Linked DNA regions of Homo sapiens. The protein of the gene in region 1 interacts with the protein of each later gene in a biochemical or structural test. Each region holds a gene or a part of one and is shown on either strand. Other genes may lie near its edges.

The links.
Region 2: the proteins of CCNB1IP1 (region 1) and UBE2L3 form a complex in vitro, tested with the Homo sapiens proteins (one study listed by BioGRID).

The regions. Positions count from the first base shown.
Region 1 is NC_000014.9:20,323,162-20,326,978, forward strand, and holds part of CCNB1IP1 (E3 ubiquitin-protein ligase CCNB1IP1), read right to left. Parts: intron 3,633-3,817; 5' UTR 3,555-3,632; intron 3,379-3,554; exon of another isoform or gene 3,280-3,378; intron 2,493-3,279; 5' UTR 2,378-2,492; intron 166-2,377; exon of another isoform or gene 18-165; intron 1-17. UniProt on the Homo sapiens protein: Ubiquitin E3 ligase that acts as a limiting factor for crossing-over during meiosis: required during zygonema to limit the colocalization of RNF212 with MutS-gamma-associated recombination sites and thereby establish early differentiation of crossover and non-crossover sites.
Region 2 is NC_000022.11:21,570,425-21,574,241, reverse strand, and holds part of UBE2L3 (ubiquitin-conjugating enzyme E2 L3), read right to left. Parts: intron 1-3,817. UniProt on the Homo sapiens protein: Ubiquitin-conjugating enzyme E2 that specifically acts with HECT-type and RBR family E3 ubiquitin-protein ligases.

The DNA.
Region 1 (3,817 bases):
ATCACCACCCGTTTAGTAATTGTTTGACTCCGCAAAAATCAGAAGGCACTAACGGACAGCCAGCCCATCCTCATGGTGCCCTGAGTGAAGATAAGCCATTTTTGATATATGATGGATCAAAATCCCACTGCCTAAGGCTTCAAGCAGTGAGAGGAACAGCCATCAAAGTTTAACTCCAACCACATTAATTTAAGAAACGTTTATAAAAAATAAAGACATCCCAACCTGGGCAACATGGCAAAACCCCATCTCTACAAAAAAATACAAAAAATTAGCCAGGCATGGTGGCCTGTGGTCCCAGCTACTTGGGAGCCTGAGGTGAGAGAATCACCCGAGGCTGGGAAGCCAGGGCTGCAGTGAGCCCTGATTATGCCACTGCACTCCAGCCTGGGCAATGGAATGAGTCCCTGTCTCAAAAAAAAAAAAATGAAGACATCAAGAGACTCTTATAAGATAGGAATCATTACATCTAAGTAAGAACTAGAGGCCGGGCGTGGTGGCTCACGCCTATAATCCCAGCACTTTGGGAGGCCGAGGCGGGTGGATCATGAGGTCAGAAGATCGAGACCACGGTGAAACCCCGTCTCTACTAAAAATACAAAAAAAATTAGCCAGGCGTGGTGGCGGGCGCCTGTATTCCCAGCTACTCAGGAGGCTGAGGCAGGAGAATGGCGTGAACCTGGGAGGCGGAGCTTGCAGTGAGCCCAGATCGTGCCACTGCACTCCAGCCTGGGCGACAGAGCGAGACTCCGTCTCAAAAAAAAAAAAAAAAAAAAAAAGTAAGAACTAGAAGAGATCATTAAGGATCAACTGATCCAGCAAGGGAAAATGAGGAACTAGATAACAAGTTAGTACCAAAATCAAGATTAACCAACTAAAGAAAATGTTATTCCAACAATTATATAAAGATACACATTATAGTGCCTATGACTAATTCTAGAACTTAATTAAGTTTTGAGGGGCGGGGTGAAGGTAATGAGGGGTAGTCTAATTAACAGAAAGATATATGAGCAATAAAAACAAAGAATTTCCTCTTTTTTTCTGAGACGAAGTCTAGCTCTGTCACCCAAGCTGGAGTGCAGTGGTGCGATCTCAGCTCACCACAACCTCTGCCTCCCAGATTCAAGCGATTCTCCTGCCTCAGCCTCCCAAGTAGCTGGGATTACAGGTGCACGCCACCACACCCAGCTAATTTTTGTATTTTTGGTAGAAACGAGGTTTCACCATGTTAGCCAGGCTGGTCTTGAACTCCTGACCTTAGGTGATCTGCCCACCTCGCCTCCCAAAGTGCTGGGTTTACAGGCATGAGCCACCACGTCAGGCCAAAACAAAGAATTTTCGTCAATCTATTATGCAGATGTCAAAAATTGCCAGGTAGTACAGAATCTAAGAGAAATATACGCATGGATTCTGATGACAAATAGTTAACATCAAACTGAGCATTTACCGTATGCTTTACCCACACCCTTACTAATTTAATCTTCAAAATAACCACCCTGAGTCAAATACTATTGCCATCCTCTAAAATATAAAACTAAGACATAGATATTAGGAAACTTGCCAATGCTGCATAACTGGTGAAGTGATAGAGCATGCGTTTGAACTCAGTCTGACTCCAGAACCCATATATATACTATACAATGCTACTTCTCAACATCTTTAATTGACTCTTTTTTTTGGAGACGGAATCTCCCTATCACCCAGGCTGGAGTATAGTTGCGCTCTCTCTGCTTACTAAAACTTCCACCTCCTGGGTTCAAGCCTCAGCCTCCTGAGTAGCTGGGACTACAGGCGCACACCACCAGGCCCAGATAATTTTTTGTATTTTTTTAGTAGAGATGGGGTTTTGCCATGTTGGCCAGTCTGGTCTCAAACTCCTGAGCTCAGACAATCCACCCACCTCGGCCTCCCAAAGTGCTAGGATTACAGGTGTGAGCCACCACGCCTGGCCTCAACTGACTTTTAAAAAGTGAAATTTAGCCGGGCGCGGTGGCTCACGCCTGTAATCCCAGCACTTTGGGAGGCCGAGGCGGGCGGATCACGAGGTCAGGAGATCGAGACCATCCCGGCTAAAACGGTGAAACCCCGTCTCTACTAAAAATACAAAAAATTAGCCGGGCGTAGTGGCGGGCAACTGTAGTCCCAGCTACTTGGGAGGCTGAGGCAGGAGAATGGCGTGAACCCGGGAGGCGGAGCTTGCAGTGAGCCGAGATCCCGCCACTGCACTCCAGCCTGGGCGACAGAGCAAGACTCCGTCTCAAAAAAAAAAAAAAAGTGAAATTTATAGCACCTTAGCAGCTGGCCATGAAGTCACAAACCTGAATTTTCAAAGACTCATATATATGGCAAAGCTTCTCAATCTCAACGTAAGCCTTACCATAAAAGAAAAACGCAGTACTCATCTACAGTATATCCAGGATTTACAGCACCAAAGAGGTCCAGACTGGAACAGCGAAACTCAGATCTGGTTTCAGTCTCTTGAAATTTTACTCCTGCAAAAGACAACAAAAGCTAAAAAATTATTTCAAGTCCTGATGTTACTTTGAGTTGTTTGTATTTCCTGTATTTCACCCTTCTTTCTACCTAATTCTCTGCTGAAAATGCAGGCACGGGTAAAGAATATAAGCTTGTCCTAAGTTACCTAAAATAACTTTTAAAATATTACAATACATGAATACAATAAAATTAGAAAATAGGTTTATAATAATAAAAGATTACTTGTAGAACCCAATTCTAGAGAAAATAACCCCCTAGTATTTTAGTATATATGTCCTTTCAGTTTTCTTAAGCAAACATATGCATATAAAAATATTTAAGCAGAAACATATTGCTCTATATAATCTGTTTTTCATGTGTCATGAATACCGTTCTATTTCAATAAACATAAAACTGTATCATAACTTTTAAGTGATTCTATAGTGTTGTACCGTATAGTCTTCACAAAATTGATTTAACCAACTCTGTGTTTCCTTTAATCTACATGTATAGATTGATAAAATAATGATTAGTTTAAAACTGCCAGGCTAAATTGCCTATAGAATTATACCAGTTGCCAGTGCTTTTTCTGTAGTGTTTGAACTTTTAGATTAATGATTCCTGACCCTAGTTCTAACTCACAAAAGTGATTTTTTGGGGATATAGAGATATCACAAAAGATCAAAGCACAACAAAACATTAGTCTCAAATTCATAATTTATTAAGATTTAAGAATTACCTGGGATTACAGACTAAATCCCAGTATGAATTCCAACAAGCAGAATTCAATTGCAGGTGTTTGCCCCTAGCTTTAGTCTGCTCAGAGCATGTGTTTAATCAGGCTGATCAGCTGAAACACGGACTTAACATGCATTTCATCATGGCAAACTGTAAATGACTGAGGAAGGGCAAACCAGCACTGGCTCCTCATCCCTAAACAGGAAAATTCTCCTAAGGTTAGAACTGGGGATTTTTTTTAATTACCAAATTCCATCCACTAATAACACCGAGTCCCAAGTCTTGCTAAGTGATTAGAAATCCAAATGAGGTAAAAACGAAGATTTTGCTCTTACTCTTACCTCTGGCATCACATGAATCCAGCTTCTATCTAGAAATCCAGTTGAACCACAGGATCTATCAATTATCTAGGATCATTTCTGGAAAATTTAAAAAACATAAATAAATTCACAAAGGTTATGATTACATGACAACTCACACCAGCATGTTCTATACCAAGTCACAAGAAAATTTAGAGTAACCGTTCATCCTTTATTTAACTCTCCATTCATTAATATAAATTATTGACTCATCTATTTGGAGAATGTCACCAAATGCCCAAGCT
Region 2 (3,817 bases), on another chromosome or scaffold:
GCTGTAGTCTTCCTCTAAACAGCTTTGCTCTGAGCAAAAGCCCCTTCCTCCCTTTCTTATAGGGGTGGGGGGCTTGGGGAGGTTAGGCTTATTTATGTCCCCCAAGAACAGGCATGATGAAGCTGGCCACAGGAGATACATGCAAAGCCCTTTCTGAGTGAGTGGCATGCCACTTCTCCTGGATAGCTGTAGCATCCAGGAGATATGTAGATCTGGCCCCTCAACCTAAAGGCTATGGCATCTCTGCCACCTGTCCTTAAATCCATCAGCACTGCCCTCAGTGACCCCTCTATAGAGAGGTAGCTCACCCTCCAAGGCTGGCCTGGCAGAGGGAGGTCTCCTAGCTCTGGAGGAACCAGGTGCACTGGACATGCCAATCTGGGGTAAAATCAAGCCAATGCCTCAACACTTCTGGAAAGCATCTCAGGGGCTGGCCTAACTAAAACCCAAAGCGGGACGGCACAAGGTCAGACGCAAGCAGCACTGGGGAGTAGGCAGATGGTCTCTGGGGCTCCTCAAAGCATTTCCCATAGGCACTGCCCACAGCCCTCCTGAGGGATGAGAGAGACTCAACCTCACTGGCCACCCAGTCCGTCTTCTTCAACTGCTGAAACCCTACTCGTGCTTAAAGGGCCAGGCCAAGTTCGACCTCCTCCTCAGTGTCAGAGGGGGTCTTTCCCTCTCCTGCAAGCCATTATTCAGGTGGCAGACATCTAGCACACAGTGGCCAGCCCAGGATTTCTTTGTTCCAGGTACGTGCCATTTTTCTCCTTTGTTGAGCTCCTCAAGGGCAGAGGAATTGCCCCTTGAGCTGAGTCTCAAAGGTCAAAAAGTTACCCTGGTACAGAGAAGAGACAGGGATGCCAATCACGAGATCCAGAGTGTGTGTGCAAAGCATGCTGTTTTTAGGGGACTCAACGGGCAAGTGGGGAGAGACAAGGCTGGTGAGACAAGACCTTGAAGGAAAAAGCTAAGGAATGTGCACTTGTAATCCAGAGTCCCAGCCTCATCCTCACCCTACTAAATTCTGCTCCAATCTCTGAGAGCAGGGCCTGCTCATGTGCACTTCTCTACTGCACACCACACCATACACTACTCTGATGCACTGCTGGTTAGGAGTAGTGTGGGACAGAGAGTGCGCTGACCAGTAAGGAGTTTAGATGAACCATTAAGGAGCTCGATGCAGGTGTCTACCACAAACAGGGATGGCCTGAACTGAGGCAGTGGGAGTGGCAGTGGCATTGGGAGTGGGAGTGGGGATGGAGAGAAGACAGGCAGAGAAGAGAGACTGAAGGCATAGTTCAGCAGAATCCGCCAGGTGACTAGACAAGGGAGGAAGAGCCGAGAAGGGCTCCGCTGGCGTTTTTTCCTTGAGCAACTGAGTAGACAAGTGAACCATTAACTAAGGTGGGACAGGAGGAGATGCATGGGGCCAGAGGGAGAGAGTCACAGGAGGAGCTAAGACTCAGATGCCTACAGATCTATGTGCCGTTCCCAAGAAAACTCTGGAAGTGGTTGGAGTCTGGCTCAGGAGGAACGTCTCTGTGGCTCTCTAATGTGCACAGTGTGTGCAGTGTGTGTGCAGTGTGAAGCTGCAAAGAAATGTGGCTCTCACATTTACTGCTGTAGCAAAGAATATAGAAATATCTTAAACGTAATAAATGTTCCAATAAAATGAGAATACTTTCAAGTGTCCTCTTATAATAAAATTTTAAAGCAACAGTCTCCTAATTTAGAGTTTTAACAAGATCAGAAAAGGCCCCAGTACCCTGAGACAAGAGTTTTTGTCTCAGGGTTTTCTTTTTTTTTTTTTTTTTTTGAGACGGAGTCTCGCACTGGAATGCAATGACACAATCTTGGCTCACCGCAACCTCTGCCTCCCGGGTTCAAGCAATTCTCCTGCCTCAGCCTCCCGAGTAGCTGGGATTACAGGCACCCACCACCACGCCCAGCTAATTTTTTGGATTTTTAGTAGAGACGGGGGTTTCACTATGTTGGCCAGGCTGGTCTCGAACTCCTGACCTCATGATCCGCCCACCTCGGCCTCCCAAAGAGCTGGGATTACAGGTGTGAGTCACCACGCCTGGCCTGCCTCAGAGTTTTCTAGTAAATACCTTAAAAGGTCCCAAATGTTGCAATAATTGAGTATACTCCTTCCCATCACCTGTCCCAAACATTTACAAAGAATACCATTAAGGGAGGCTGAAACAGTCCCAACTTACTGGAATGCATGAATTTAGAAAAAAAGACGCAACGTTTTTCTCAATTCACAAAGCCTCAGTGGATTCAGGACATTTACACTGGCATAACATCACATATAAAACTCCCCTCACCTCCTGAAACATGTGACATACTCATTGCTCTATCTCCTTAATCACCCAACCTCAGAATCTAAACCTATACTCAAAAGCAAACTACCTCACTGCTTAATACAACGAAACCCAAGGAATGAACTTTTAGAGGTTCCTCCTACTATGACTATGAACTGGGAGAAAATATAACAATATGAAGTTCTGAGTGAACATTTTTAAATAGCATTAGGCTGGGCGCAGTGGCTCACACCTGTAATCCCAGCACTTCGGGAGGCCTCGGCGGGCAGATCACCTGAGGTTAGGAGTTAGAGACCAGCATGGCAAACATGGTGAAACCTCCTTTCTAATACAAAATTAGCAGGGAGTGGTGGTGCACACCTATAGTATCAGCTACTTGGGAGGCTGAGGCAGGAGAATCGCTTGAACCTGGGAGGCAGAGGTTGTAGTGCACAGAGATCGTGCCATCGCGCTGAAGCCTGGGCAACAAGAGTGAAACTCCTTAACTCAACAGTTATGTCATGATAAGTAATAAGACATTACACACACACCCCTCTAAATCCACAGATTTCCCCTCTGAGAAAAGCCCTTCTGGGAAGCTACTCAACAGGAGGGCCCTTAGGGGAAATGTGTGCAGTGTGAAGCTGCAAAGAAATGATCAGATGGCAATCAGTTGCCTAAGCCACACATAAAGGTTTCACTTTTGGCTTTTGCAGCAATTTCCCCATCCTGATTGAAGCAATGGTTACAATCTGGTTGTAGCCAACAATGCTAAATTAGCTGCTTGCAAATTAAAATGTACTTAATGTTTTATTAACACTGTAATTCCTAAAAAGGCTTCTAAAAGAGGTTAAGCCTCCTGGCAAGTGCTTTTGAAATAAAAGACTTTATCATACTCACTTTGCCTAAAATAACTTCTCAGTGTAGTATATGTAAATCACTCTACTTTTAATAATGTGTTTTACACTATCTGCAGACAGTCCATTGTTACAAAGAAATCTTTGCTGTGGAATGTCCTAGAAAACATTTTTAACAGAAATCTAAAGTTCTTTAAGATGTAATTAATTTGATCATTCAACATTTGCTAGATTGCTATGCCTAAGGCACTGTTCCATGCACTAAGCCCCAACTTTTCACCAACGAAAATCACTTTATTACCACCCTATGTACTGAAAAGACTGTTTATCAACTTGTATCAATAATTTTTCTTCCTTTAAAAGAAAAAAAAAACAGTCTTAAACATTGATTCTCACAGCCAATGATCAGCATTACATAACTGGTGTTCCCCTAGTGAACTGAAAGCCTTTCCATCCTCAACTTAAGAAACAACACACCGCTCCATGCAGCCTTTGAGTAAGAAAGACAGCCTGACAAGAGGCATGGAATTTGGATCCTGGAGCCAGGAAGAGTCAGCGTCTTCTCTCTCCCCACCACGTTCCACAATTCTACCTTAGGTAACTCCCTTAACCTACTTAACCTCACAATGTCCTCATTTATAAAAAATACAA